Linked DNA regions of Homo sapiens: regions 1 and 3 are each linked to region 2. The links come from fine-mapping of genetic effects on gene expression. A gene starts in region 2. Each other region holds a variant in brackets. All regions are shown on one strand. Distances are from middle to middle. Region 1 overlaps DLL4 (delta like canonical Notch ligand 4). Region 2 holds the start of SPINT1 (serine peptidase inhibitor, Kunitz type 1). Region 3 has its middle 7.6 kb from the start of DLL4.

Region 1 (10,234 bases), 90 kb after region 2:
GCAGCGTCCCGAGAGGAGCGCCTCTTTTCAGGGACCCCGCCGGCTGGCGGACGCGCGGGAAAGCGGCGTCGCGAACAGAGCCAGATTGAGGGCCCGCGGGTGGAGAGAGCGACGCCCGAGGGGATGGCGGCAGCGTCCCGGAGCGCCTCTGGCTGGGCGCTACTGCTGCTGGTGGCACTTTGGCAGCAGGTAACACGTCCCGCGCCCTCTCCGTCCCCTCTGCCGCGCTCTGGGCCTCAGCCCCGGGCACCAGCTGAGCTGACCGGTCCCCTCCCTCCTTCCCTCGGTCCCTGTGCAATAGCGCGCGGCCGGCTCCGGCGTCTTCCAGCTGCAGCTGCAGGAGTTCATCAACGAGCGCGGCGTACTGGCCAGTGGGCGGCCTTGCGAGCCCGGCTGCCGGACTTTCTTCCGCGTCTGCCTTAAGCACTTCCAGGCGGTCGTCTCGCCCGGACCCTGCACCTTCGGGACCGTCTCCACGCCGGTATTGGGCACCAACTCCTTCGCTGTCCGGGACGACAGTAGCGGCGGGGGGCGCAACCCTCTCCAACTGCCCTTCAATTTCACCTGGCCGGTGAGCACAGCCTGGGCGCACTGGGAGGTCGCAGAAGCCGAGAGAGGAGGCGCCCTGGGACCAAAGCCCCCTCCCCAGATTTCCTTGTACACACACCCCCACCCCCAAAAAGCCCAGGATGCATTCTTTCCTGGCTCTTCCCGACTCTCTCCTGAGACTGATCCCAGAAAAGGCTCTCACCAGTCTCCGTCTTCCCAGTTTATGTCCTCCCGTCCCCAGCTCTTGGGACACGATTTTCATTACCTACCACTCTGGGGCGGTACCCTACCACCCCCTCCTCCAGTGGCTCTCCCTTACACTCTCCCGTCTCTCAACCCTCCCTCTACCGGGGGTTCTCCTCTCGCCTTCCCTGCTCAAGCGCTACACTGTGCACAGCCCCGTTATGTTGACCCGGGCGCAGTAACTGAATCCTGCAATTAGATTAATTAAACAGGCTGCCGCAAGGCACCCCCACCTCTCCCCGCTTGCTCATCTCGCCATCTCTCCGTCCCCCCACCCCCTTTCCCAGGGTACCTTCTCGCTCATCATCGAAGCTTGGCACGCGCCAGGAGACGACCTGCGGCCAGGTGAGTAGCTCGCTCCGCCACCACAGGGGGGCGACACGGCGCAGCGCCGAAAGAGTTAATCTGTTCTAGGCGGGGGAAGTGCGGGCTTGGGGGTGGGAGGCAGGACGCTTAGCTTGGCCTGGAGCTGCGCCCCGCGCTGGACGCTCGGATTCCGCTCGCTGCCTGGACTCAGAGCACAATTGCGTTTCCTGCGGGTTATTTTTGGCGTGGGAACGCGGGGAGTACGGCGGTGAGAAAGGCTGAAGCTGCCAGCGCCGCTGACGGGCCCCTTCCTGTATTTTACACCTTTCGCGAATTCCGCTCCTTTGGAAAGGGAATAATGGCTTTGGGATGTTGTTCTGACACAGAGGAAAAGGATATTTCAGCAGCACAACAATTCTCACTTTGAAAAGGAAAAAAGAAAACCATTACCCACCTCTGGAGGCAGAACCCCTGAATGGGCACCAAAGGACCCCCTGCTCCCAGGGTCCTCTCTAGCCTGGGGAGCTTTTCTTTCTTTTTCTCTTTTTTCCATTTTGACCTCTTTTCCTCTTTCCCCTCCCTATCTGCCTCCAAGACCCTGGGATATCTTAACATCCTTCTATTGTCCCCTTTTTGAATACTATCAGGCCCCCTGCACATGCACACACGTAGGGCAGCTACGTAGCGGGGCTTTGGGTCCCTCTGGCCTGTTCTTGCTGGCAGGCGGGGGTCATCTGGATAACTGGGCTGATTGGTTGGCTGATCACCATCATCACAGCCAAGAAGGACATTGGCCAGCCGTCACTGGCACCCTTGGGGACTGGCGACCCTTCCCTGACCCGACCCTCTGCCCCCTCAGAGGCCTTGCCACCAGATGCACTCATCAGCAAGATCGCCATCCAGGGCTCCCTAGCTGTGGGTCAGAACTGGTTATTGGATGAGCAAACCAGCACCCTCACAAGGCTGCGCTACTCTTACCGGGTCATCTGCAGTGACAACTACTATGGAGACAACTGCTCCCGCCTGTGCAAGAAGCGCAATGACCACTTCGGCCACTATGTGTGCCAGCCAGATGGCAACTTGTCCTGCCTGCCCGGTTGGACTGGGGAATATTGCCAACAGCGTAAGCAGTCAAGCTCCCACCTGTGTGGAAGGGGAGGGTCCCCTGAGGAAACACAGTGGAGCTTCTTGGTCACAGCTTGCCTCCCTTGAAGAGTGGGTCTGGGCCTCCTACTAGCTGGGCCTCAGGGATGCTGAGGGTGGGCTTGACCTCAGACCTCCTGTCTCTTCCCAGTGCTCCTCCCATCATGCCAAAGCCCACAAGAACCCCATCATGACATTCCATCCAGTTTGGCTTCTCCTTCCCTGTGCCATTATTTCACTTTAAGACACTCGGGGCTCCTCTGGGAGGCCAGGAGTAGGAAGAGGGCCCAGGAGAGCTAGGGGATCCCCAGGGCCAGCAGGTGAGAATGGGGCTTAAGAGTCCTTGGTATCCCAGCCTCACCCAGCTCTGTGTTCTTCCCTTAGCTATCTGTCTTTCGGGCTGTCATGAACAGAATGGCTACTGCAGCAAGCCAGCAGAGTGCCTGTGAGTAGGGGACAGGAAGTGGTGAGTGGGAGCCCTCCCTTGGCCAAGGCCTCTCACCTCACTCTGCCTCTCTCTTGTTCCCCAGCTGCCGCCCAGGCTGGCAGGGCCGGCTGTGTAACGAATGCATCCCCCACAATGGCTGTCGCCACGGCACCTGCAGCACTCCCTGGCAATGTACTTGTGATGAGGGCTGGGGAGGCCTGTTTTGTGACCAAGGTGAGTCAGGGTGAAGAGAGGGTGCAGAGGGTGCAAGAGATATGGGGCTGGGGGGTGGAAATCCGATTCGTCACCTGGATCCTTCTTACTTGGTGACTGCAGACTTGGCTTTCCCATGATCTTCCAAGGATCTTGGGTCTTTTAAGGATCTTTACAACTGGCCCAGAATGAGGCGGTGGGTCCTTCTCCAGGTGCGGCGGCAGGGGGTGGTGGAGCCAGGGTGGCTGAAAAACCCAGGGGGGTGACAAGGTCGGCAGCCTGGAGGTTGCACTCATAAATCCTAGCAAAGCCAAAGAGAGAGGGATGGCAGGCTCAGTTCCTCTTTCAACCCCGTAGTTACCTATTAACCCCCTGAGTGTTTGCTTACCTTCCAGGGCTGTTTGAGCAGCTCTCCCCTAAACAGCTGTCCGGTGGGGTGTGCCCACCGGCCACCTGAGGCTGTGGGTGAGCTGGGCCTCTGGGCGGAGTGGCATCTAACCGACTTTTCGGTGTGGGCACAAACGGCCTCCCCTGCTCTTACCTAGTTACCACCTGCCTGAACCCATGCGGTCTCTACCTGGTGTTTAGGGGTAGTCACTCTCTGGCTATACAGGGGCCTTTCAGCCCCAACCTTGGGGGAGGAGGAAGCCTTTTTTCTTGCATCCTGCTAGCCAGCTGCAGCCAGCTGCAGCTCCCATTTTCAGGATCAAATGGGTGCACCTGCTGCCCAGAGACACCGGCGCAGGCCTGGGTAGGGTGGGCAGAGAGCTTGCCAGGGTGGAAAGAAATTGCCTAGGCCCTGACTTGCTGTCAACAAGGGGCTTGGGATTCAGTCCCTGTGTTGTGTGTGTGTGTGTGTGTGTGTGTGTGTGTCTGTCCCTTTACTACCATCCCCACCCCAACACTCACACACCTGGTTCCTGCTCATTCTCTTCCCTCTCCACCATATTTGCTCCCAGGTGACACAGTCATATACTCATCATATGCAAACACAGCACTTGCAGGCCATATATTTACTCTGTCTGGTTCTCCCTCCCTGTCCTTCCCAAATAAAAAAACAAATACTTATATTTCAAAATACCCTTGTAACACCTCTTCCTTTAAAAAATGCCCGATTACTGCCTATGGTGGCTCTCATCTCTCCTCTACCATTTCTACCTGTTGAAATTTTATCCCTCCTTCCAGGCTTATCTCAGCTGCCCCTCCTCCATGAAGCCTTTTCTGACTTCCTCCCCGACATGTGGCCTTGCCCTCTGCTCTTCTTCCTTATCTTCATCCTACTTGGGTTGGCAGTTTGTGAGTTTCCCTGGCAGGACGTCTTCCAGTTCCAGTTGTGTTGTTTCACTTTTGGTTGACTGCACTGGTCATATGTGATTCAAGGTGCTTTAAGAAACATGATTTTCATCCTGGCTAACACAGTGAAACCCTGTCTGTATTAAAAATACAAAAGTTAGCCAGGTGTGGTGGCAGGCACCTGTAGCCCCAGCTGCTGGGAAGGCTGAGGCAGGAGAATGGCGAAGTAGAGCTTGCAGTGAGCCGAGGTCGTGCCACTGCACTCCAGCCTGAGTGACAGAGCAAGACTCCGTCTCAAAAAAAAAAAAAAAAAAAAAAAAAAGAAACATGATTTTAGGCTGGGTGCGATGGCCTGTAATCCCAGCACTTTGGGAGGCCGAGGTAGGTGGATCACTTGAAGTCAGGAGTTCGAGACCATCCTGGCCATCCTGGTGAAACCCCTGTAAAAATACAAATATTAATCGGGCACAGTGGCGCATGCCTGTAATCCCAGCTACTTAGAAGGTTGAGGTATGAGAATCGCTTGAACCCGGAAGGCGAAGGTTGTAGTGAGCCTATATCACATCACTGCACTCCAGCCTGGGCGACAGAGTGAGACTCTGTTAAAAAAAAAAAAAAAAGAAGGAAAGAAAGAGAAAGAGAGAGAAAGAAAGAAAGAAAGAGAAAGAAAAAAGATTTTATTGGTGGTGGAGGAAGGATGTTTGGGCCTGGGAGACTTTGAGTTGAGGTGTCTTTGAGCCAAACATGGGGGCAAACATGGACTGCAAGGAGCCTGGAGGTGAGTGCATTCCCTGGCCCTGCTCAGCTGCTTGGTTCCTGTTTCTGCAGATCTCAACTACTGCACCCACCACTCCCCATGCAAGAATGGGGCAACGTGCTCCAACAGTGGGCAGCGAAGCTACACCTGCACCTGTCGCCCAGGCTACACTGGTGTGGACTGTGAGCTGGAGCTCAGCGAGTGTGACAGCAACCCCTGTCGCAATGGAGGCAGCTGTAAGGTGAGGCCCAGACCAGCGCAGGAAGACAGAGGTGTCAGGTGGTGTCTGGGCATCCCTAACCTAGGCAGTTAGTGGATGTACAGCCATGGACAGGCATTGTGGGCAGGTGGAGCCCAGCCTTCAGTCACACATCCCTGCCCCCCAGGGTCTGACTTTGGCCCCTTTATGGTCTCTCTCCAGGACCAGGAGGATGGCTACCACTGCCTGTGTCCTCCGGGCTACTATGGCCTGCATTGTGAACACAGCACCTTGAGCTGCGCCGACTCCCCCTGCTTCAATGGGGGCTCCTGCCGGGAGCGCAACCAGGGGGCCAACTATGCTTGTGAATGTCCCCCCAACTTCACCGGCTCCAACTGCGAGAAGAAAGTGGACAGGTGCACCAGCAACCCCTGTGCCAA[C/T]GGTGCGTGCTGCTGCCCTGCTAACCTGGTGGACTGGCCCTGGGGCTGAGAGAGACTTCTGGTGAGGGAGGGTCAGGAGAGGAGCGAGGCATTGTCTGCCACTCTGGCCCCCCATCTGCTCTGGAGGGCGAAGAGCTTGCTTGATCAGCTGGGGGGCTGTGGAAGCGGAGCTGGTTAGTTGCACGCAGGCCTTAGGAGCAGGGGTGGTATGCACCCTGCATAGCTTCCATTCCTATTCCCATGTCAGAACCCCGTCCTGGCTGGGGTGGCCTCTGACCCTCCCCAGGAAGTCCTGAGCTGGAGAGAGGGATGTTGGAGGCTTCATGTTTCTCCTCAAAGGAGGCAGTGATTCAGTCAGAGCCCTGCTCCTGGAGGCCTCATCTTGCCCCGTGCCCAGGTAGAGCATGAGGTAGCATGAGGCATCTTGAATGTTTGCACCTTTTGAGGCACAAAGCCTGTTGGTAATCCTTGTCTATCTGGCTCCCAGGTGACCCTCTGTGAGGCAGGCAGGCAGGCAGCGCTCAGGAGCTGGAGAGGGGTGGGAAGGGCTGAGAGGGAGTCTGCTCTCTCACTGAAGCCTCTGGCACTGCCATTTCTTCATCACTGAATGGGAAACTATAATACCTGTCCTCTGTCCTTCATGTGGTTGTGAAGATGAAGTAAAACAGTCATGATTGTACTTATCCGAGCATTAACTATATACCAAACATGGGCTCTTGCCTTCATGTACCTTCCCGGCTATCCTATGAAGGGGCTAGCATTCTACTCCAGTCTAACAAATGGGGAAACTGAGGCTTAGAGACACGGTTAAGCAGCAAGTGCCAGATCTCAGGCCACAGAGTGACAGCTGAGGTCCCAACTCAAGCCTATCTGTCTGATTCTACGTTAAAGTTCTGTAAGATGCTAGTCATTTTTATACATGAGCCCACTGAGGCCGAGAGAATCAAGGTCATGCTAAACTCCAGGTCTCCTGACTCTGTGCAGTTCTCTTTGTAGTGGGCTCTGCAGGTGGAGGTAGAAGGGCCCGAACGTGTTCCTGGAATGGGGCTCCCACCCCCTGCCCCAGGGAGCTCCCAGGCTATCACTGACTTGTGTCTCATGCGTCCTCACAGGGGGACAGTGCCTGAACCGAGGTCCAAGCCGCATGTGCCGCTGCCGTCCTGGATTCACGGGCACCTACTGTGAACTCCACGTCAGCGACTGTGCCCGTAACCCTTGCGCCCACGGTGGCACTTGCCATGACCTGGAGAATGGGCTCATGTGCACCTGCCCTGCCGGCTTCTCTGGCCGACGCTGTGAGGTGCGGACATCCATCGATGCCTGTGCCTCGAGTCCCTGCTTCAACAGGGCCACCTGCTACACCGACCTCTCCACAGACACCTTTGTGTGCAACTGCCCTTATGGCTTTGTGGGCAGCCGCTGCGAGTTCCCCGTGGGCTTGCCGCCCAGCTTCCCCTGGGTGGCCGTCTCGCTGGGTGTGGGGCTGGCAGTGCTGCTGGTACTGCTGGGCATGGTGGCAGTGGCTGTGCGGCAGCTGCGGCTTCGACGGCCGGACGACGGCAGCAGGGAAGCCATGAACAACTTGTCGGACTTCCAGAAGGACAACCTGATTCCTGCCGCCCAGCTTAAAAACACAAACCAGAAGAAGGAGCTGGAAGTGGACTGTGGCCTGGACAAGTCCAACTGTGGCAAACAGCAAAACCACACATTGGACTATAATCTGGCCCCAGGGCCCCTGGGGCGGGGGACCATGCCAGGAAAGTTTCCCCACAGTGACAAGAGCTTAGGAGAGAAGGCGCCACTGCGGTTACACAGGTGAGTGGCACCCAGAAGCCCAGGGCCTGGCCACCGGCCCCGACATGGTTCTGCCTAGGCTCCTCTTAGGCCAGGCGGGAAGCAGTTAAGCAGCTGAGGTTTTGTTACTGACAGGAAGATCCTCCAGTAGGATTTCTGTCAGGGGTCCTTTGTCCTTCCCTCCCATTCATTCATTTGTTCATTCACACATGTCAAGTGTCCCTAGGGTGTCTCTTGTGACTTCCGTCTTTCCACAGTGTGGCTTGCCTCTAGTGGCAGCACTGGCTTTATGCAGGGCTCAGACCCTTCTGGTGAGGTTGGGAGGCCTGTGACTCTCTTAGGGGCCTTTTCCTAAGTGCCCCCCTGCAGCAGCCCAGCACTGGGCACGTCCAGCCCCTGTGTCTTCCCCAAGAACCACCCTGCAGATGCCCTTTGGCTCTCCAGGGTCCTCCCTCCCCCCAAGCCTCTCCCCGTCCCTCCCTTACACGCCTGTCTTGTGTTCCCTCAGTGAAAAGCCAGAGTGTCGGATATCAGCGATATGCTCCCCCAGGGACTCCATGTACCAGTCTGTGTGTTTGATATCAGAGGAGAGGAATGAATGTGTCATTGCCACGGAGGTGAGTGCTGGGCTCGCCTTTCCTTCTGCCTTTTGTGGGAGGGAAAGTGGCCTGGTCACTCTTGACCCATGGGCCATTCCTGAAGGGTAGGTCAGAACCCTGCCTTGGCAGGCCAAGTTCAGTGGACTCTTGGGTCCCTGCTGGCCTCATTGCCACTAAGGGTGTGAAACAGGAACCATGGCGGCAAGCCTGGTCTGGTCCTTTCCTGCTGTATTGGTGCTGGGTTGGGCAGCCACGGCACTGCTGGCCAGCCTCTGATGGGTGAGGGGGCCCCTCACCCCTTGTGCCCTTCCTGCCCCTTCCCACTGGCTTCCTCCATTGACCTCATGAGCGCAAGCTCCCAGGCCCGTGTGTGTGTTGGGCCGAAGACTGGGGAGGACTGCCCCACCTGCCCTTAGCCCCTGCCTGCCCCATCGCCTTCTCCCAGGGAGGCCCAGGGAGGGCCTGGAGGGAGTGCGCATGCCCAGGGTAACCTGTTTCCCTGCCTTCCGCTTGCTCCCAGGTATAAGGCAGGAGCCTACCTGGACATCCCTGCTCAGCCCCGCGGCTGGACCTTCCTTCTGCATTGTTTACATTGCATCCTGGATGGGACGTTTTTCATATGCAACGTGCTGCTCTCAGGAGGAGGAGGGAATGGCAGGAACCGGACAGACTGTGAACTTGCCAAGAGATGCAATACCCTTCCACACCTTTGGGTGTCTGTCTGGCATCAGATTGGCAGCTGCACCAACCAGAGGAACAGAAGAGAAGAGAGATGCCACTGGGCACTGCCCTGCCAGTAGTGGCCTTCAGGGGGCTCCTTCCGGGGCTCCGGCCTGTTTTCCAGAGAGAGTGGCAGTAGCCCCATGGGGCCCGGAGCTGCTGTGGCCTCCACTGGCATCCGTGTTTCCAAAAGTGCCTTTGGCCCAGGCTCCACGGCGACAGTTGGGCCCAAATCAGAAAGGAGAGAGGGGGCCAATGAGGGCAGGGCCTCCTGTGGGCTGGAAAACCACTGGGTGCGTCTCTTGCTGGGGTTTGCCCTGGAGGTGAGGTGAGTGCTCGAGGGAGGGGAGTGCTTTCTGCCCCATGCCTCCAACTACTGTATGCAGGCCTGGCTCTCTGGTCTAGGCCCTTTGGGCAAGAATGTCCGTCTACCCGGCTTCCACCACCCTCTGGCCCTGGGCTTCTGTAAGCAGACAGGCAGAGGGCCTGCCCCTCCCACCAGCCAAGGGTGCCAGGCCTAACTGGGGCACTCAGGGCAGTGTGTTGGAAATTCCACTGAGGGGGAAATCAGGTGCTGCGGCCGCCTGGGCCCTTTCCTCCCTCAAGCCCATCTCCACAACCTCGAGCCTGGGCTCTGGTCCACTACTGCCCCAGACCACCCTCAAAGCTGGTCTTCAGAAATCAATAATATGAGTTTTTATTTTGTTTTTTTTTTTTTTTTTGTAGTTTATTTTGGAGTCTAGTATTTCAATAATTTAAGAATCAGAAGCACTGACCTTTCTACATTTTATAACATTATTTTGTATATAATGTGTATTTATAATATGAAACAGATGTGTACAGGAGTTTATTACTTATTGGGTCCTGTCTTTGTGATGGTACCCCTGCCCTCTCACCCAAAAAACTCTAAACTCCCTTCTACTGCTGCCATGTGCCCCGCCGGAACCCCTGGGACCCGTGCAGACACTTGGATTTGGCATGTCGTACCCCAGGCCCTTGTCTTCTTCCATTCGTTGAGGAGCCGAGCCTCACCCATCTAGTCCCCAGCCTCAGCCAGCCTTCCTTGCCTGCTGACTTTGAGTTGGTACAGTGCCCCCTTCCCTCTTTATGCCCTCACCATTCCTGGGGCATGTTCCTCCTGACCTGAATCACTTCTTCCTTCCTCTCTTCAAGCCTGAAAAAGCTTATGGGGCTCCCTAGTTCTGCCTGTTTTTCTCATATTCAAAAGGATTCTCTTGGCCGGGAGCGGTGGCTCACGCCTATAATCCCAGCACTTTGGGAGGTCAAGGCGGGCAGATCACGAGGTCAAGAGATCGAGACCATCCTGGCTAATAGGGTGAAACCCCGTCTCTACTAAAAATACAAAAAATTAGCCCAGTGTGGTGGCGGGTGCCTGTAGTCCCAGCTACTCGGGAGGCTGAGGCAGGAGAATGGCATGAACCCAGGAGGTGGAGCTTGCAGTGAGCCAAGATAGCGCAACTGCACTCCAGCCTGGGCGACAGAGCGAGACTCCATCTCAAAAAAAAAAAAAAAAAAAAAAGCATTCTCTCG
Region 2 (10,234 bases):
GGCCTCCCAAAGTGTTGGGACTACAAGCGTAAGCCACGGTGCCCAGCCAGGGGAAGGGTTTTAGCTGACTCTCCTCTGACAGCTCTGACACTCTCTGCCTAAGCAAATACTGAACTTCATGAGTCGGTCCAGGGAACAGTTGGCTCTGTACACTCTGCCAGAGAAGTTCTTGGGGATGACTGAGGGTCTGAACAGGTGAGGGACAGATGAAGGCAGGGCTGGAGGAGGGAACCACATGGCAGTGTGCAGGGTGGCCTGGAGTTCCATCAGGAAGCTGGCACAGAGCCTAGATTAAGGGCAGCAGTGGGAACAGACAAGAGATGGATGTGAGTGATTACCAAGGAAGACTGTCATCAAATATGGTATGTGGAGGTCATCACGGTGTGTCTCTCTCTTCATTATGGAAGCATCCCATGTTCACTGAAGGGATCTTGGAAAATATTTTTAAAACTAGAAAGAAGAAATGTTATCCTACAGTCTCACCATTCAAATACCATCACTTTCCCTACTTTGATGGCATACCTTATAGTCTTTCTTCTCTTCACATGTAGTTTTTCTTATTAGTATGTAAGAAGCAGCATAAGGTAGTATGGAAAGTATGGCTTTTAATGTCAAAAAGACTTCAGATACAATCCTGGCTCTGTCACTTTTTTAAAAGAATCATTTCGACTTTTATTTTGTTTACTTATTTTTGAGACAGGGTCTAGTTCTTTCACCCATGCTGGAGTGCAGTGGCATGATCATAGCTCACTGCCACCTTGACCTCCCTGGCTCAAGCAATCCCCCCACCTCAACCTCCTGAGTAGCTGGTACTACAGGCATGCGCCACTATGCCTGGCTAATTTTTTGTATTTTTTTTTATAGAGACGGGGTCTTGCCATGTTGCCCAGGCTGGTCTTGAACTCCTGGGCTCAAGCAATCCTCCTGCCTCAGCCTCCCATAGTGCTTGGATTACAGACATGAGCCATTGCACCTGGCCTCAACTTTTATTTTAGATTCAGTGGGTACACATGCAGGTTTGTTACATGGGTATAGGGTTTGGGGTACAGATGAGCCTGTCACCCAGGTAGTGAGCATATTACCTAAAAGGTTGTTTTTCAGCCCACGCTCCCCACGCTCCCCTCCCTCCTTCTCTCTTCTGGTAGTCCTCAGTGTCTATTGTTCCATCATTATGTCCATGTGTACTCAATGCTTAGCTCCCATTTATAAGTGAGAATATGTGGTATTTGGTTTTCTGTTCCTGCCTTAATTTGCTTAGGATAATGGCCTCCAGCTGCATTCGTATTGCTGGAAAGGACATGATTTTGTTAATTTTATGGCTGCATAGTATTCCATGGTACGTATGAAGTACATTATCTTTATGCAATCCATCATTGATGGGCATCTAGGTTGATTCCATGTCTTTGCTATTGTGAATAGTGCTGTGATGAACGTACAAGTGCATGTGTCTTTTTGGAAAAACAATATATTTTCCTTTGGGTATATACCCAGTAATAGGATTGCTGAGTTGAATGGTAGTTCTAAGTTTTTGAGAAATCTCCAAGCTGCTTTCCACAGTGGCTGAACTGATTTACATTCCCACCAACAATGTATAAGCGTTCCCTTTTCTCTGCATCCTCACCACCATGTGTTTTTGTTGTTGTTGTTGTTGTCGTTTCAAGTAACATTTATTGAGAACTCTTTGTGTCAAATGCTTTGTCTGCATTAACTCAATTAATCCTCATAAAAAACCTTATGAAGCCCCACTTCCCATTCAAGGAGACTAAGGCAGAGAGATCAAATAACTTGCACAAGGCCACACGAATAGTAAGTGGCAGATGCAAGAGCTAAATCCAGTAGTCTGAGTCTGAAGCTCACAAGTTCAACTTCTCTACAACCTGTCACCACTCTTCGTTCACTACCTGACCTTGATGGAGTCAGTGAACCTTTCTGCAAAGTGGAAGCAATTTTTAGAGTTGTCCTGAGCATTAGCAATCCTATGTCAAGTGCCTGGAGGGAACACAGTGGGCATCTCAACAAATGGTGGGTGCTCACCACTTGAAAGTGAGTTATGGGTTTAAGCAAGTTGAATCTGAGGTGAGGGCAGAACTTCCAGATGAAGTCAGAATTGCAAAGGCCATAAAGCCCAGGGTTTAAGCACTGAAGCCATGGAATTGGCCTGCCTGGGCTCCAATCCCTACTCTGCCGCTTCAATGCTGAATGACCTGACAAGTCAGTTTACCTGTCTGAGCCTGTTTGCTCATTTGTAAAATGGGGCTAAAAATACTACCTCCCTAGGTTTGTTTTGAGTATAGGGTAATATGTGGGCAGTGCTTAGGAACAGAGTTTGGGCATTGTCAGTGCTGAATTCATGTTGGTTTTTATAATGGTGTGTATAATGGATGTAATGATAAATTTATGGTGATGTAATATTACCATAAGGTAATATTTTCCTGTATTAAGATTCTTGAGGTCAGGCACAGTGGCTCACGCCTATAATCCTAGCACTTTGGGAGGCCGAGGTGGGTGGATCACCTGAGGTCAGGAGTTCAAGACCAGCCTGGCCAAAAAGGTGAAACCTCGTTTCTACTAAAAATACAAAAATTAGCTCGGCGTGGTGGTGCCCACCTGTAAGCCCAGCTACTTGGGAGGCTGAGGCAGAATTTCCTGAATCTGGAAGGCAGAGGTTGCAGTGAGCCGAGATCGTGCCATTGCACTCCAGCCTGGGTGACAGAGCAAGACTCCGTCTCAAAAAAAAAAAAAAAAAAATAAATAAATAAATAAATAAAGATTCTTGAATGTGTTAGCCATAAGGGGAAATCAAATCACAACAAAACCCTTTCTTCCCAGTGACTGCACAATCATTTTCTTCATTCCCAGCATACCACCATTGTTGTATATCCACCAGTGTGCCAGGGTCTGTGGATAAACCCTAAACATCCAGAGAAGGGGAGACAGGCCCCAGATTCCCACCCCAACACGCATCATGTGAGCAGCTGGAGGATGTTGCAGTTCAGCAAAATCCAAGGGTTGGCCACAGGATCTGCTAGGCAAAGCTGCTCTGGATGAGAAACTGGGAAGAATGTTCCCATTGGTTTGGGGGTTGTTAAGCCATCAGGAAAAGGTTTGGAATCTGTATTTTAAGAGAGCATGCTATGTGATTCCTTCCTCCAGCCCTGCCTTCATCTGTCTTTCACCTGTTCAGACCCTTGCCGTAGAGAATGGTCTCTTAAGAGTTTTTTACTCAGGAGGAGCAATGAGCTTGGCTTCAAGGAGTCCACTGTTTCGTGAAGGGCATTAACTCAGCTACTTGGTGAACTGGAACCTCCAGGCTTCCAAGGATGACATTTCCCTGGAAGAAAGTAGCCAGCAGCGTCCCCTTTGTGAAAGAGAGGAAGCCTGGGCTCCAGGGAAGGGGGCAACAGTCCAATGAGCCATAGCAGGGAATGGACCGAACTGTACATACAAGATGAGGAGGGGCCTCGAACAACAGGGAAGCCCCGTGGAGCACGCAGGGGAGCCTGGACGCGGGGAATCGCCTCCGTTTCTCACCCTGACAGCAGGGAGGGCTTCCCGGAGCTGACAGTGAGGCAGACATCCCGGATCCCTGTTATCACAGGTGCAGCCACGCAACTTTTGGGTTACCTTCCCGCCACGAAATGGAAATGATTTCCTGAGGGCCGGAAAGATCATTTGCATCGGGCCTCAGGTCTGGGGCTGGGAAAGCAGGCCCCGGCCGGAAAGGAAGACTGGAGGCCGCCGCCCCAGAGGCCGGACCCTCGCGTCCCGGCCGCATCCCCTCCCGGCTGGGTATGCGCTTCGGGCGCGGGGCTCCCTCGCGAGGCTGGACTGGGTGGAGCCCGAGAGCCCCTCCGGGGAGCTGGCTGCCGGGGAGGCACCGGGGCTGCGGGGCCGCGGGGCGGGCCGGGCCTGGAGCTCCGCGCTAGAGGCGGCCGCAGCGCACCGGGCGTGGGCGGGGCCGGCAGCGCAAGGGTGAATGTCGGCCCCGCCCCGACGGCGCTGACTCAGTTTCACCAGAAACCAGGGGGAGAAGGCGGCCGAGCCCCAGCTCTCCGAGCACCGGGTCGGAAGCCGCGACCCGAGCCGCGCAGGAAGCTGGGACCGGAACCTCGGCGGACCCGGCCCCACCCAACTCACCTGCGCAGGTAACCCGGGCCCCCGCGCGCAAGGCCGAGGCGCAGGCGGAGCGGGCTGGAGCATGTCCGGCCCTTTGTTCTGCGCTCGTGCGTGTGTCCGGGTACTTGAGCTCCCTAGCGGTCCGCCTGTCCGTCTGTCTGGCTGCCGGGTCCCTGGAGGGCGCGTGGGAGGGCCGGGCCCGTGCGCCCTCTTCGATCCTGGGGTGCTCCGGTCCCTCCTCCCCGCCACTTCCTCCCGGCCGGCCCGCCTCCTCCAAAGTCTCCCGGGCTGATCAGGTGTGTCTCCTCCTCTGTCCCCTCCCTTCTTCTCAGGTCACCAGCACCCTCGGAACCCAGAGGCCCGCGCTCTGAAGGTGACCCCCCTGGGGAGGAAGGCGATGGCCCCTGCGAGGACGATGGCCCGCGCCCGCCTCGCCCCGGCCGGCATCCCTGCCGTCGCCTTGTGGCTTCTGTGCACGCTCGGCCTCCAGGGCACCCAGGCCGGGCCACCGCCCGCGCCCCCTGGGCTGCCCGCGGGAGCCGACTGCCTGAACAGCTTTACCGCCGGGGTGCCTGGCTTCGTGCTGGACACCAACGCCTCGGTCAGCAACGGAGCTACCTTCCTGGAGTCCCCCACCGTGCGCCGGGGCTGGGACTGCGTGCGCGCCTGCTGCACCACCCAGAACTGCAACTTGGCGCTAGTGGAGCTGCAGCCCGACCGCGGGGAGGACGCCATCGCCGCCTGCTTCCTCATCAACTGCCTCTACGAGCAGAACTTCGTGTGCAAGTTCGCGCCCAGGGAGGGCTTCATCAACTACCTCACGAGGGAAGTGTACCGCTCCTACCGCCAGCTGCGGACCCAGGGCTTTGGAGGTGAGGAGGGTGCCAAGATGGATGGGTTTGGAGAGACTCAAAAAAGGGACTGGTTATGGGGTCCTAGGGGAGACGAACATCAGAGAGGAGTTAAGGAGAGTTCACTTTTTTTTTTCTTTTTCTTTCTTTTTTTTTGCGACGGAGTCTCGCTCTTGTCGCCCAGGCTGGAGTGCAATGGCGCAATCTCTGGTTGCTCACTGCAACCTCCGTCTTCCACGTTCAAGTGATTCTTCTGTCTCAGCCTCCGGAGTAGCTGGAACTACAGGCACCCGCTACCAGACCCGGCTAATTTTTTTTTTTTTTTTTTTTTTTTTTTTTTTGGTACAGACGGGGTTTCACTATGTTGGCCAGGCTGGTCTTGAACTTCTGAACTCAGGTGATCCACCCACCTTGGCCTCCCAAAGTGCTGGGATTATTTCTACCTGAAGCCCTCCTTAGAAGTAGGCAGTACAGCCGAATCAAGCCTGGTGATCAATGGGGTGACAGATGTCACAGCCAGATCGCCTTCACATCGGTAGTAGGCAGTACAAACAGTAAACAAATGAAAGGGGACATGAGTAGGGAGGGCAGGGCCCAGGCTCTGGCTCCTGAACTCAGGATGTTCAGAGGTGATGGGCTGGTGCTCACAGGGAGGCCTTTGGCTCTGGGCTGTGTGTACTGGAGGGGAGAGGAAGTCCCCAGGACTCCTGACCTCTGGCACTGATAGGCTGATTGAAGGAGTGAGCTGTCTGGATGGTCTGGTGACTAGAAAGGCACCTTGGCCAAGCACTGGTCTGGGCACACCGATGCCCTGTCAGGTGAGCCTGGCCATAGTCTCCTCCACTGGCTGGACTTGGGACTGCTTAGCATCTCTCTACCCCCTAGGAATGCATTGGCCTTTTGGTGGTCCAGGAAGACTGCCAGATCCGAGACTAGAAAACAAGCCCAGTCTGCGGTTGATCCAAAGGGAGAGAAGTGATGTTGTAGGCACAGAAGCCTAGAGGCTCTGGGGTGGGGGATGAGGAGGGTTGTGGGGTGAGTCAGCCTGTTGGTATGTATACCTAGTAGGGAAGGGATGTCAGCTGTCCAGGCAGGTGTGTGTGCATGCGCATGAGCCAGACAGGGCTCTCCCTGCTTAGAATCTGGTAGCCAAACCTTGTTTACTTCCATAGATAAAGGCAAAGCGGAGGCCAGGGCTCCTCCTCTTTCTTCCCCGGACTGAACTGTCTGCTGGGATCAGGGCCAGTCCAGAGCCTTGGTTCCCCCTTTCTCTCTACCTGCTGTTCTGGCCAGGTGGGGCTCCAGGGCAGGGGTAGGTCACCTCTCATAACCTCTGTGAGCACTTTACAGCTTACTGATTGCTGTGCCACACATCCTCTCACTCAGGCCTCATCACAACAACTTCCAAAAAGGGTGCTACTAGCAGTCATCCCACTTTTTAGATTAGGAAACTAAGACTCCCATGTTAAAGAATTTGCCCAGGGTAACACTGCCCATAAATGGTAGGCCTGAGATTCACCCCAGGGGAGACCTCCAAAAAAAGTCCTGTGCTGTTTTTCACACAAGACCATCTCTCTGGTAAAAACCTAGCATTCTGACCCAAAATAGCCCAGTGGATAACAGAACCGGGGATTGGGGAGTTTGGGGGCCAGAACTGGGCTGGGGCCACATCTGGGGGTGGTCTCCGTTCTGGAAAGTGGAGAAAGGGCTTTCCTCCGCAGACTTTTCCTGGGCTAGTCTCTCTGCCAGGCTAAGGAGGGTCCTCTTTCCTCCCTATCCTTCCAGTAGCTCTCCTGGGTCTCTGAGGAGAGGCGAGATGGGGATTCCTGTGGATGGGAGGGGGACATATCTGAGGGCCAGTCTGGGCCACCAAGTCCCACTGAACCAGGGCTGCAGCCTGTTCCACAAGGAAGTAGCAGAAAGTGTAGGTGGTGATGACTCTTACTGACCTGAGTTGCTCATGCCCTTCCTGCTCCACAGAGGCCCCATGGGAGTCCCTCTCCAGAGCCAGAGTGTGAAATTCTGGAGTCTGGTCAGGGAGCTTAGCTGGACTATGGCCCCATGGTCTTGAGACCAGCCATCCTCATCTGGAAACCCCCAGGACCTGCCTGTTTGCCACAAGAGAGGGTGGAGTGGGGATTTCCTGGGACATTGAGGGAGGCAGGTAGGGCTTGGACTTAGTATGAGCTCCAGGCCATTCTAGGCCATTCTTAGAGTGCTGCAGTGCTTTGGGAAGAGGAAAAAGCTGTGTGTGTGTCAAGGGGTTTATTCTCACCTGGGTCCAGTTAGAGAGGTTGGAGGTGGGTAATGACAGGGTAGAGCCATTAAGGGCTAGGGTGGATGAGGTGGGTTGGGTGACGTGGGTCACGGGCACTGAGAGCTTCCAAACCTTTGATTCTCCTATTGCATAGATAAATGCTCCCCAGAATGGGTTTGTTTGTTCCTCCTTCTGCCTGTGGCCAGGCCAGGCCAGTACAGATTCCTGCAGCTGGAGGCGGAGCAGCTTGCACTTCCTCTTCTCCCCTTCTCTTCCCCCACCTCTCCTCCTCCCCAGTCCTATGAAGGAGTGGCTTAGGAGGCGGAGTCTGCACTTCCCTGAGGTCCTGAGACCTGGTAACTAACTGGGGGAGGGGCTGGTTTTATTGCCACTCTAGCCCTTTGCTCTCTTGCGGGTGGGAGGAAGGGAGTGGTAAGGCAAGGTACCTGCTCCTTGGTCCTGGGGGCTGGGGCTTGGAGAGGACTGAGTTGTGTTGGGGTGGGATTCAGCCCCTGATTCAGCTCAAAGTCTGATGCATCACTCTGCATGCTACTTCCACTCTGGGGGCCTGGTGGGGCTAGCCTGTCTGTCTGCTAGGCAGACTGCTAAGTAGTCTGTCTTCTTTCTACAAAATGCAAGGAGGGAGGACTGCGCTCCTCCCAGCTCGCTACTCCCTTGGCAGGTGTTCTCAGGGTACTCTCCTGTTTGTCAGCCAAGCCCCTGGGCTGGGAGGTTGCCTCCAGACAGCCACTTTTCGTTCCTGCTCATCCCTGTCTTATTTTCCCTAATCCCTGGAACCCAGTTCTCTTTTTACTATTTTTGTAGGCCTCTGAAACATTCAACATGTTTCTTCCTGAAATCTCTCCCTTCCCATCCCTTTTGCTGTCATTGTGCATCCTGGTCTTCTCAGCCCCAGAACCACCTTCTGTGAGTCCCCCATTGGCTCTGCTTTCTCTACTTCATCAAAGAGGAATCCCTGAGACTCGGCCTCCTACCAGCTGTTCTTAGCTCTTTACCTTCTCTTCTTTCTTTGCATTCACTCTAACACTTGAAAAAACTCTCTAGAGAGCCTCTGTGGAGGGTAGTTGGGCAATATCTATCAAACCTAAATGCACACAGCCCTGGACACAATTCCACTTGTAGGAATTCATCTTGCAGCTGTACCTACACACGGATAAAACAACTTACCAGCCAGTTAGTCCCCGTAGTATTGTTTATAATAACGAAGAATTGGAAACAATCGCATTGTCTGTCAACACATCCTATAATTGAATACTGTGATGCTGTTTTCATAATAATAATAAACCCTAAGGTAGCATGGTTTAGTTCTTAGGAGAGAAAGAAAGAAAATCTAAATCAGGAAACTGGTAGGGACTGTTTAAATAAATTATAAATTGTGGTGCATTTATACAATGAATATGATACAACAACAACAACAAAAGGAAACTCTTTATGTGTCACTATGGAATGATTTCCAATATATATAAAGGGCAAAACAAGATGAAGAACTCAAATGCTTGTGAATTCAAATACTGTCTCTTGATATTCTCTCTCTCTCTCTGTCTCATACATACCTTTGGGGTAATAAACCTGATGGAGAAGGTTCCTTCTTAAGGAGAAGAGGTGACTTAATTTTGACTAGGCTTTTGTACCTTTTGGTTTTGGTTTTTCTGTTTTTTTTTTTTTTGAAATGGGGTCGGGCCGGGCGCGGTGGGTCACGCCTGTAATCCCAGAACTTTGGGAGGCCGGGGCGGGCGGATCACGAGGTCGGGAGATTGAGACCATCCTGGCTAACACGGTGAAACCCCGTCTCTACTAAAAATACAAAAAATTAGCCGGGTGTGGTGGTGGGCACCTGTAGTCCCAGCTACTTGGGAGGCTGAGGCAGGAGAATGGTGTGAACCCAGGAGGCGGAGCTTGCAGTGAGCCAAGATCACGCCACTGCCCTCCAGTCTGGGCAACAGAGCAACACTCCGTCTCAGGAAAAAAAAAAAAGAGAGAAATGGGGTCTCACTCTGTCACCCAGGCTGGAGTTCAGTGGTGTAACCACAGCTCGCTGCAGCCTCAACCTCACAGGCTCAAGCGATCCTCCCAACCTCATCTTCATGAATAGCTAAGTAGCCATCACACCATCACACCTAGCTAATTTTTTATTTTGTAAATACGAGGTCTCACTATGTTGCCCAGGCTAGTCTCAAACTCCTTGGCTCAAGCCATCCTTCTGCCTCAGCTTCCCAAAGTGTTGGGATTACAGGTATGAGCCACCACACCCAGCCACCTTTTGAATTTTATGTCATATATGTATTACCTAAACTAGAAAAGCAAAATTTAAAAACCCAACATTATAAAAGCAATTAAAATCACAACCTCTGAGGGGGTGGATAACCTATAGAATTACGTTTTGGAGAGAGCATTTGCTGTGGAGTCTGACAGACCTTGGTTCAAATCCCAGCTCTGCCTTTAGAAACTGAATGACTCTGAGCAAGCCATTTAATCTTTCTGGTGTCAACTTTCTCATCTGAAAAGAGGGTGAGAATGTAGGTGTAGCAGGCTGGTTTTGAAGGTACATCATGGACTCCAGGGGTCAATAAACTTTTTCTGTAAAGATCTAAATAGAAATTATTAGGCTTTGTGGGCCATAGGGTCCCACTTGCGACTGCTCAGCTCTGCTGTTGTTACATGAAAGCAGCCATACTCAACATGTAAATGTGTGGGCAAGGCTGTGTTCCAATCGATGGACACAAATTTGAATTTCATGTGCTTTTCACATGTCATTACAAAGGATTCTCCTTTTGTTTTTTCTTTTTCTTTTCTTTCTTTTTTTGAGACGGAGTTTCGCTCTTGTTGTCCAGGCTGGAGTGCAATGGCGCGATCTCCGGCTCACCACAACTCCGCCTCCTGAGTTCAAGCAATTCTCCTGCCTCAGCCTCCCGAGCAGCTGGGATTACAGGCATGTGCCACCACACCCGGCTAATTTTGTATTTTTAGTAGAGATGGAGTTTCTCCATGT
Region 3 (10,234 bases), 77 kb after region 2:
ACCTTCCCCAAGCACGGGGGACCCTGACAGGGTGCTGACGCTGTTGCTTGCTGAATTGTGGGCTGACACGGTAAAATCCTTGAAGTCAGAGAGGTGATTTCTGGTTCATTTTTGATTGGTTACAAGCATGTACCAGTCACCTACTAAGCACTGGGTCTGTGGGGGGATATGCAGAGAGAGAAAGTCATAGTTCCTGCTCTCCAAGGCCTTTTCAAGGCAGAGGGAAGGGCAGTGCTTACAGTAATGGGCTACCACAAGGTAGTACCGTTTATATTCCCCGCAACCTCTCCAGGAACTCCCCACTGCCATGGCGGAGGGAATATTGTTAAGTGAAATATGTTAAGTGAATATTTGTTACTTAAGTAGAGCATAGAATGTCCCTTCCCTGGCATTACAGATAGAGGGAGACATCTTAGGGGTCAGGGACAGAATGAGTTTCAATTGCATCAAATGTTGGAGAAGCCCAGGCGCGGTGGCTCACACCTGTAATCCCAGCACTTTGGAATGCCGAGGGAGGCAGATTGCGTGAGCCTGGGAGTTCGAGACCAACCTGAGCAACATGGCAAAACCCCATCTCTACTAAAAATACAAAAAATTAGCTGGGTGTGGTGGTGGGCACCTGTAGTCCCAGCTACCTGGGAGGCTGAGGTGGGAAGATCACCTAAGCCTGGGAGGTGGAGGCTACAGTGAGCTACGATTGTGCCACTGCACTCTAGCATGGGTGACAGAATGAGAGCCTGTATATATATTAAAAAAAAAGCCATGTTGGACGAGAGAGGGGATGGAATGAACCTGGACCTGCAAGCTGGCCATAGAGGAGAGCTCACTAAGATCCCTTTTGGTTCTTGGCCGCGCTGTTACTAGCTGAGGGGGCTTGCAAGTCCCTAGGGTCTGCCTAGAGGTCCTGTGGGTTACCACCCCCTCTGCTCAAGTGATCTTGCCCACCTGGAGGTTCACCAAAGCCTGAGAAGCAGGACCGCAGAGCAGGCTTTTTTCTCCTCTTGAGGGGGGCTTCTTGCCCTAGGATTCCCAGGGGTCTCCCCTTTCCCCCTAGAGGAGCCCAACACAGCCCTTTCGCCATCACAGTATTTTCCAAACAGGTGGAGGATGCTGTGGCCCAGTAGCCACCTGGCTGCGGAGCGGGGAAGCCCAGTGCACGTCCCTGGGGCTTCTCTCAAGCTGCGGCCGCTCCTTACGAGCTTAGGCTCTAACCCTTGGCCTGGGCAGTGGGCAATAGCTTCAGGAGCTTGGAGTGAGGGGGCTTATGAGGGAGGGGGCCCACTCCCAGCTGCCTAGCTGTGGGTACTAACAGGCCACGCTGGGGCGGGGTCGGGGGGGCAAATAGATTGAGGGGGGGCACCACCACCTGCTTTTCCTTGTTTTGTTTTCAGGGCACTAATTACTGTGCTGAGCTCCGAGCTGCCTAATGAGGCCGTTTGGATTTCCTGTTGTTCTGGCTTCCCAAGACCCTTAAAGGGCCAGCATGGAACTAAGAGTGTGATCTGGGTGGGACACCAACTGCTCTGGTGGAGGTAAGCACAGAGGGGCTATCCCCAGATTTGGCCTGAATGCCGGGGGCAGTGAGCGGATGAGAGGCTGGTCCAGTTCGCTGCTCCCACGCCCTCTATGAGTACCCGCTCAGAAGTGCCCATGCCGGAAGCAGGAGCTTCAGGGCTGCATAGCCTGGCCAGGGCATGGGGTGGGGAGGGGGAGGCAAGGAGGCCAGGGCTGAGGAGGAAAGGCTGGTGATGTCACCAGTGCCCAGACTGTGAGAACCGCTGCAGCACCAGGCAGGAGGGAAACGCTGTGATGTCCTGCCTCCCCACTGGAAAATAAACACTTGTTGTCTGAGCGGCCAGCACCACTTCCAGAGGGGCAGGCTGGCGAGCCTAGGGGCCCAGAAACAGGCTCGGGCCCAGTGTTGGGCAGAGATCTTTGCCCAGGCTGGATGCAGGAGGGTCAGGCTGCCCCCAACCTAGCCTCGCTGTTGCACACCACCCAGCAAGGCTCATGGGCTGCGCCGGTCCCCTCTGCACCTTAGGGCTCTTCTGTGCATGCAGAGGAGCTGAGCATGGCTGGGGATGCCAGGAGCCCACTTCCTTAATGGACTGGCCGGGCAGGAGGGCACTCATCTGCCTGCCTGTGTCTGCCTCCTATTTGGGGCACAGCCTCCGCCCCAGGACCTATCCCAAGTGCCCCTCGCGCTGCCTCAGGCTGTGAGTCCCCTGGGCCCCTAGTATGCCTGGCCTGCAGCACCCTCCCCCCCAGACAGGGTGACGACATTGTTGTTCTTATACGGGGCCTTCCGCCTGAAGTTCCGGCTCTGCTAAATGGTGGGAATGAGGGTCCACGGGACAAAGCCAGCCTGGTTCCCGCAGCCACCTCAGAATGGACGGAATCCCCATTGTGTGCGGGCGCCTTGTGCCCACCCTCCCCTTACCCTCGCCGGACGTTGCCAACAAACAGCTCATTGAGCCCAGGGAGGGGCCCAGGAGACAACAATGTCCCCCAGCCGGCCAGAGCAGTGAACTCAGCTAGGGGTGGGAGCTGCCACGGAGGCTGGAGGGTGATGATCTCAGCCTGGGAGACCTGAGTCTGACCTGGGTCTGGTCTCCCTGGTGAGGGTGAGAAGGGCTGACCTGGCGGCCTCACCCTGGCTGCTCCACCCCCAGCTTGAGCTGGAAGGTTCTCGTGGCCCAGCCTAGGGGACCAAGCAGGCTGTCCACAGGACCCAGCAGAGCCATCCCAGGCCCAAGGGGCTAGTGGACCCTCCCTCTTGCAGTGCCATTCTGGAATTCCCTCCGCAAGGCCTAGACCAAAGCCCTCTCAAACCATCAGCCCAGTGCCAAGCATGTGTCAGGACTTTCAGATCCACAAGAGGCTGCACTTTCTATAACCAGAACCATCTAAAGAGCATGGGACAGCCTGGAGAGGGGGTGAGAGTCCTGTCCCCAGAGGTATTCGAGTCATTAGTTATTGAATATGGTGTTGGTCCAAGTGCCCTTCAGAGCTCACCTCACCCTGAGCTTCTAGACATAGGGCCCCAAGTCATTCCCCCAAGGTACCTCTGGACTCCCTTTTTGCTTTCCAGGCCCGATCCAACCTTTCTCCTCTTCCAGGCAAGTCTGGGCTGCCAGGAAGGGCCTCGGGCTTCTAAGGGGAAAGAAGGCAGGGGAGAGGGCTGGCCAGGAGAGCAAGGAGGCAGGGGAGAGGGCTGGCCAGCCCAGCAGCATGGCTGAAGCTGCCTCCACTTTCAGTATGGTTGCCCGGGAAGCCCTGATGCCAGTCTCATGTTTGCAGGGGACTATCTGGAAAGCAGAGGGTGAGAGGAGAGAGAAGCTGCTTTCAGGGAAAATGTGGAGTCTATCTCAGCCAGTCATCAGGCCTCTGGCATTCTCAGGTGCCCCACCATCTATGCATAGGAGCTGCCAACTCAGGGACAGGACTCAGAAATAAGTGCTCACCTGGTCACCAGCCACAGATATAGAAATGTTCCTAGCTGCCTCTGGCCTTCTTTCTGTACCTCCCTGCTCCAGACTACCCTGCATACCACTGCCAGAAAGCATGCAGACGGCACTCTCCTCTGCTCAAGAACCCACAGGCTCCCTAGTACCTATCAATCAAATCCAAATTCATCTGTCTGGTGGGTTTCCATGCCATAGCTATGTAACTTCATGTCCACCCTCCATAGGTGAAGTCTCTGCCCCAGCCATACTTGGTTCATTTGCACCCAGATCCTTTGCCTCTCTTCATTCTCTTGTCCTTTTTTTTTTTTTTTTTTTTTTTTGAGATGGAGTCTCGCTTTCTCACCCAGGCTGGAGTGCAATGGCACGATCTTGGCTCACTGTAACCTCTGCCTCCCAGGTTCAAGCAATTCTCATGCCTCAGCCTCCCAAGTAGCTGGGATTATAGGCGCCCGCCACCACGCCTTGCTAATTTTTGTAGTTTTAGTAAAGACGGGGTTTCACCATGTTGCCCAGGCTGGTCTCCTGAGCTCAGGCAATGAGCCCGCCTTGGCCTCCCAAAGTGCTAGGATTACAGGTGTGAGCCACCGCGCCCGTGCCCCCACCCCCTTCTCTTTATCTAAATTCTGTTCTTTTTCCAGGCCCAGTGTCATCCCTCCTCCCCTACAAAGCCTCCTGTGACCCTCGGGGCCCCAGTTGCTCTCTGAAGCCTGGTTCCACAGGTCATCACACTCCTTTTCATGTGCTTCTATCTAATTTCCAGCTGCTGTGAGCAACAAGGGCTGAATTTTATGTTCCTGTGTGGCCTTACTAACCTGAGCCCAGTGCTAGGCACATGGTAGACCTCATCCACAACTGAGTGGCTGATGGACCCAAACTCTGCACATGCACATCACACACACACAGGGGTCCTGGGAACACTAACCATGGGGCCCATAGGGCCATGCCCCAGATAGAATGCACCTTTTGCATGCCTTCTCTTCTCTTGGTGATGGTTTTGATAGACTTGTCCCAGGTCTCCCCAGTTTCCTCCTCACCTGGAGAAAGACTATAGTAAGGGGGTGGGGGTTAAGCCACAGGAGGAGAGGAGGGGAAGCAGGAGAAGCACTGGGAAGCACAGGGATCTCAGCAGCCACAATGGCTCCAACAATAGCAGTGTTCACGCTGCCCAAGCAGGACTCATGAGACTGGGGCAAGTGGGCCCAAGTGTGGATGCCTATTTCTTTTTTTTTCTTTTTGAGACAGAGTCTTGCTCTGTTGCCCAGGCTAGAATGAAATGACACGATCTCGGCTCGCTGAAACCTCCGCCTCA[A/G]TGGTTCAAGGGATTCTCCTGCCTCAGCCTCCCAAGTAGCTGGGATTATAGGCGCCCACCACCATACCCAGCTAAGTTTTTTTAACTATTATTTTTAGTAGACATGGGGTTTTGTCATGTTGGCTAGGCTGGTCTTCAAACTCCTGGGCTCAATGATTTGCCCACCTCGGCCTCCCAAAGTGCTGGGATTACAGGTATGAGCCACCATGCCTGGTTGATGCCTATTTATTTTTTTATTTTTATTTTTATTGTTATTGAGACAGAGTTTCGCTCTTGTCACCCAGGTTAGAGTGCAATGGCTTGATCTCGGCTCACTGCAACCTCTGCCTTCCGGGTTCAAGCGATTGTCCTGCCTCAGCCTCCCGAGTAGCTGGGATTACAGGCGCCTGCCACCACGCCCAGCTAATTTTTGTGTTTTTAGTAGAGATGAGGTTTCGCCATGTTGGCCAGGCTGGTCTTGAAGTCCTGACTTCAGGTGATCCATCTGCCTCGGCCTCCCAAAGTGCTGGGATTACAGGCGTGAGCCACTGCGCCTGACTGATGCCTGTCTATTTCTAAACATACAGAGTTGGTGGAGGCTGTTACTGAAACCCCTGGTGCTAAACACCCTGACTACATTGTCACTTGGGAGATTCTCTATGAGCTCCCAGATCTTAAATCCAGCCTGCCCCTTTGCTGCAGTTTGTGTGGCTGGACAGCTCCACTGGGCTTGATTTTCTGAGAGTGGCACCCAGAGGGGTGGGGGCAGGAGAAACAAAGTGAGTTTGGCTCACAGTGGTCTAAACATTGTCCAGAAAACTCCTTGGGTCTCCCAGGGAGCCTAGCTCCTGGTGCCTCCAGGTCTCTCTGGACTTCTTCCCTGGGGAAAGTCTAGACACGAGGAGAATTCTCTGGCCTGGGGTTTCTTTGCTAATCACAGGCAAGGCAGGTTACTCATTAGCAAGCATCAACGTGCAATTCTCATCAGTTCAGGGGAGAGTTCAACCTGGATTGACAGCTGGGATCCACTGTATAGACACTCGGTCACAGGAAGTTCTCCCATACGTCTAACCTAAATCCTTCCTGCCACAGTTGAAGCCTGTTTCCTCTCATTCTGACTGTGGTGGGAGAAGGAGACAGCCGGTCATCATCCTCTGCTTAAGACCCAGCACCTACTTGACCATGGCAGTGGGATTCCTCCCCAGCCTTCTCCAGGGAACAGTGGCCTGCCTGCTCAGGCCGTTGTTCACAGTTGGCACCTGTCCCCCGACTCTCCCCGTTTCTTCCTCTGTGTCTGAGAGTATTTGAAACAGTACTTCCTGGTTCAGGATTGACCCTTCTTTCCAGGGAGTCTGCGGGGGAGCAGGGCCGATCTGAGTACAGCCCACTCCCAGGTTGCCCCAGCGGGAGAGAGTGAGGTGTGGCCCCATCCCCGCCTCGTGCTTGCTTCAAGTCCTGGGTGGCAGCTGGGATCAGAGATCAGAGGCTATGTGGAGAAATGAGGAAAGGTCAGGGTTTCTTCCAGGAGATGAATTGTCACTCAGTAGGGGGAAGGCAGAGGACACGCAAGGACCTGGGGACGCCAAGGGATTGGGGAAATCATGGGCCTGGATGCTAATGGAAGGCCAGAGCCAGAGGAGGGGTGTGAGGCTGAGGGGGAAGGTGGGGCTGGGAGAGCTTCCCAGCTGGCAAAGGTCACAGAGGAAATAGGTTTCAGGGATGGGCAACCAGTATCCTGAGAGGGGGCAAGAGGAGAGGACAGTGAGGTGAGCACGGCCAGGGTGGAGGATGAGCAGGTAAGGAAGCTTTTACAGGGGAAGCAAAACCTCAGGGTAGGGAGGCAGGTCCAAGAGGGTGGCTGAACCCCTGCTTTCAGCTCAGGCTCTGCCCCCCACCCCACCATGTCCTTCAGCACAAGTTCTCTTTTGCCCCAGTGACTCCCAGCAAGGCTTCGCCCTGTGCCCTCCATTCTCTGACCCTACAAGACCTCTTAGAGGCCTCTGAGCCCTATAGGATCCAGGTGGGGAGGCAAGGGCAGGCTCGGGCCAGGCCTCCCACCCGGGGGTCTTCATGCAAGGCTGCCCTGAGCCTTCCCTCCCTTCCCCTGAGCCTCCCTGCTTGCTGGCTAGGGTAGGGACAGGAAGGAGCTAGGGAAGGGGAAGCCGGGGGCTCTGGGAAAGTTGCTGCGGAGGCTGCCCTAAACCCTGGCCTGCTCCGTGGCTGGAAATACCCACTGCGTGGCTCCTGGCCCTAGCTTTCCAGGCATTCCCTGGGTTTGGCAAATGAAGCTGGGGCAGCTGCCGGGTCACCGTAACTCTAGCCCTTGCAGCCAGGCCTATCTAGGCTTCTCCAGCTGGCAGGTCTTCACTCTGCCCCCTCTTCTTTCTCTCCTGCTGACCAGCACCCAGAAGGCCTGGAGAGAATGTCTGCCGGCCATGAGTCATGGTTAGAAGATGCTTCTCATGTGGCGAACCCTCAGCTTCTCTTCTCTTGGGCCCATGGTCTCCGCAGACCCAAGCTGTTCTCCTCCAGAAGAAGAGGGCCCAGTCCATACCAGTTACCGCAGTCCCAGGCATCTCCTGCACTGGGGCTTCTGAGAAGGCAAGGGAGACAGTCTGCAACTAGCCTAGGCCCTCGGGCTCCTGGGGAACATGGGAGGAGGAGAGGGGAGGCCCTCCTGGTCTTGTGAGAAGCAAGAGCAGGGACTCTGTCTCCTGCCAAGGGTCCCAACCACTTGGACATCCCTTCCTTGGCACATTTGGGTCATCAGTCATGAGCCATCAGCCAGTGGATGGTCCAGCCCGGTCAGTGTGCTGTCTTGGTGACACAGAGAGGGCTGATCTGCCAGGAGCTTCAAGGACCAGGGCAGAAGATGCCCCTCTTTCCTGCCACAGGTCTCAGCTCTGAACTGCCACCATGAAGGAGGAGGGGTTACAATTTGAAACCTACACTTGGCCCTGGCAGGAGTGCCGTCTTGGTTTCCGAAGGCCAAGACTGTGAGCAGTTAGTTCCTCCAAACCTTCATATCTTCCCCAAACCCATTCTCAAAGCTCCAGTCTTCTCCCTCCAGTCAAGAACTTTGTCACACCCTCTTGCCACAAACAGGACCTCCAACAGTTGGCTTTTTCCACAGGGTCCGGATCCCTTCCGAGCCCCACCTAGCTTTCCTCTCTTTTTTCCCCACCCTCTGCTCCTCATGCCTCATCCCTTATGAGCATTTGTCTGCGGTTCTCCTTTTTCCTTCATTTCCTTCTGGAACTCATTTGCAGTCAGGGAGCTCCCCTCCACTCTAAGTCTGCCCCTGACTGTCTGGATGTCACCTGGGGGAAAGGAAATGACTGTTTATTGGGTCCCATGAATGCATAATCTGATACAGTCCCTCAGCCACTCTCCAAGGCTCCAAGGTTATTATTATTATTATTATTATTATTATTATTATTATTATTATTAGAGACAGAGTCTCATTCAGTCGCCCAGGCTGGAGTGCAGTGGCATGATCTCTGCCCACTGCAAACTCCGCCTCCCAGCTTCAAGCAATTCTCCTCCCTCAGCCTCTTGAGTAGCTGGGATTACAGGCAAACACCACCATGCCTGGCTACTTTTTGTATTTTTTTTTGGTAGAGACAGGGTTTCACCATGTTGGCCAGGCTGGTCTCGAACTCCTGACCTCAAGTGATCTGCCCTCCTCAGCCTCCCAAAATGCTGGGCTTATAGGCATGAGCCACCACACCGGCCATCCCTATTATTATTATCCCATTGCACAGATGAGAAAACTGAGTGTAGAGCTAGAGTTAGGTTACAAGCCCAAGACCACATGGTTAGGAAGTGCCAAGAAGCAGGTCCATGTCAGGCTTATTCACCAGACTCACCTGGAGGGTGGGGAGAGACTCGTTCCTCCTGCCTCCTCCCCATCTCTGCTCAGTCCCCCTGACCAAGATTCTTCAGAGTTCGGTGTCCCTCAGCGCCCATGCCCTACCCCTTCCTTCTCACCGGGGCCCTTCTTATCATCAGTCACTGCATCCTGTTCCTCCCTTGAAGCCCCCAGATGAGTTCTCAAGGCCACCACCAAGTCATCACCTTCCTCACTCCTCTCTCCAGTCTCAGGCCTGTTCTATGGGGAACCCACTCTGTCCCGCGGGAAAAACCCTCAGCAGGCGGTTCCTTGTGGGGGCTCCAGAGAGAGGTGAAGGAGGCCACGCGGGGCACCGCCTGCTGAGCGGGAATCCCGTCCCTAACCGCTGGCGCCCCTCGAGGGGAGGGGCGAGGGCGGAGGTGGTTCTGCTGCGGCATCTGTCCCAGGCGGGCGGGAAGCTGCTGCATTAAATTGTAAAATCGATTTATTGACCGGCAGGTGCGAGCAGCGGCAGATGGAGAGTAGCCCTGCCGGGGCGCATCTGCGGGGAGCGGCGGCATCGATCCCGGCCCCCCTCTGAAACCCGTCGGTCCTGGGCCTTTCTCGCCAGCTCACTCCCAATTGTAGGGCCAAGGTCCTTGAAACTGCGGCGCCTGAATGGCTAGGGTAGCTCGACTCCCTCCCCCAACACCCTCCTGGCCTCAGGCCCCGGGCTGCGCCCCCACGGCTGCCAGGCTCTGCCAGTCCCACTGCCCCAGTTGGCACGCGGCGGGCCGGGCTGACGCGTGGCAGCGCCCTGCGGCAGATGAGGCACGCGCCGGCCTCATTTCAATGTGAATGGATCGAATGGAGCAGCCATGTGGCAGCAACAGTTTGCAAATCTCCACGCCTTCTGTGCAGCTCCCCGGCCGCCGCTCCCTGCACGTGGCCCCTTCTCCGCAGCGACCGCAGCGGCGCCCCTCAAGGCTTAAGCGCCCCGCCCAAGCCAGGCCTGCTTCCCCGCCCCTGGTCTGCCCAGCAGGCACGGTGGCCCGGCCCCCACCGCGCTCCTACCCGGGTGCAGTGTGCCCCGCGAAGAGCGCCGTCCCCTGAGAGGGGGTTGGGGAGAGGAGAGGCAAAACCGCGCTGAAGGTCTCGGAGCTGCGCCTGCGGCCGTGGGGAGGGCACAGAGGCTACGCTGCGGGGGAGGAGTCCCGAGGCTCTACGAGGCTCCTGTTGCGCCCCAATAACCTGGGGTCAGCTTGGGGACACCGCTGGAAGGCGACCTTAGCGCTTCCCGGTCCTCAGTGCCGGTTCTTATGGCTGGAGGACTATGCGCAATGGCCAAGCGTAGGGGGACAGCAGAAGCAGAAGGCCTCTAGGGGCAGAGGCGGTGGGCCTTTCATGAAGCCAGGCCTCGACCCTGCGCCCGCTTCCGACGTTGGGGAGTGTTGAGGGTGCGGGTCGAATTGAGGAACCCTGGGCCTGCGGAGGGTCAGTGGTCTTTCGGACTCTGGGTCTATCTGTGCACCCTTTCCATGCTGTTGTGGAGGGTCTGCGTCAGGGGCGGGGGCAGCCGACTTCGATGGGGGTCCAGCCCCACGGTGATCGGTGGCCTCCCATCCCAGGACCACGCGTGTAGCGTTC

Evidence for each region.
Region 1: its variant is fine-mapped to the expression of SPINT1 in blood mononuclear cells (TOPMed, PIP 0.98).
Region 3: its variant is fine-mapped to the expression of SPINT1 in whole blood (TOPMed, PIP above 0.99).

The regions. Positions count from the first base shown.
Region 1 is chr15:40,929,546-40,939,779 of GRCh38, forward strand. DLL4 (delta like canonical Notch ligand 4) reads left to right here. Exons shown (of 11, transcript NM_019074.4): 1 at 1-189; 2 at 302-571; 3 at 1,080-1,137; 4 at 1,958-2,221; 5 at 2,626-2,686; 6 at 2,772-2,902; 7 at 5,003-5,172; 8 at 5,353-5,572; 9 at 6,683-7,385; 10 at 7,873-7,981; 11 at 8,484-9,528. The coding sequence starts at 124. The coding sequence ends at 8,489. Among named protein-coding and RNA genes, the nearest start is that of DLL4, 5.3 kb to the left of the region's middle. RefSeq lists an enhancer at 8,656-9,472. The variant C/T (reference allele first, on the strand shown) is at 5,571.
Region 2 is chr15:40,840,042-40,850,275 of GRCh38, forward strand. It overlaps SPINT1 (serine peptidase inhibitor, Kunitz type 1), which reads left to right and starts at 4,007. Exons shown (of 11, transcript NM_003710.4): 1 at 4,007-4,145; 2 at 4,449-4,988. The coding sequence starts at 4,514. SPINT1-AS1 (SPINT1 antisense RNA 1) reads right to left here and starts at 4,483. Exons shown (of 2, transcript NR_146468.1): 1 at 4,138-4,483. RefSeq lists silencers at 3,445-3,627, 3,789-4,018, 4,099-4,158, 4,449-4,688 and an enhancer at 3,580-4,151.
Region 3 is chr15:40,916,641-40,926,874 of GRCh38, forward strand. No RefSeq gene overlaps it. Among named protein-coding and RNA genes, the nearest start is that of DLL4, 7.6 kb to the right of the region's middle. RefSeq lists an enhancer at 8,546-9,391. The variant A/G (reference allele first, on the strand shown) is at 4,777.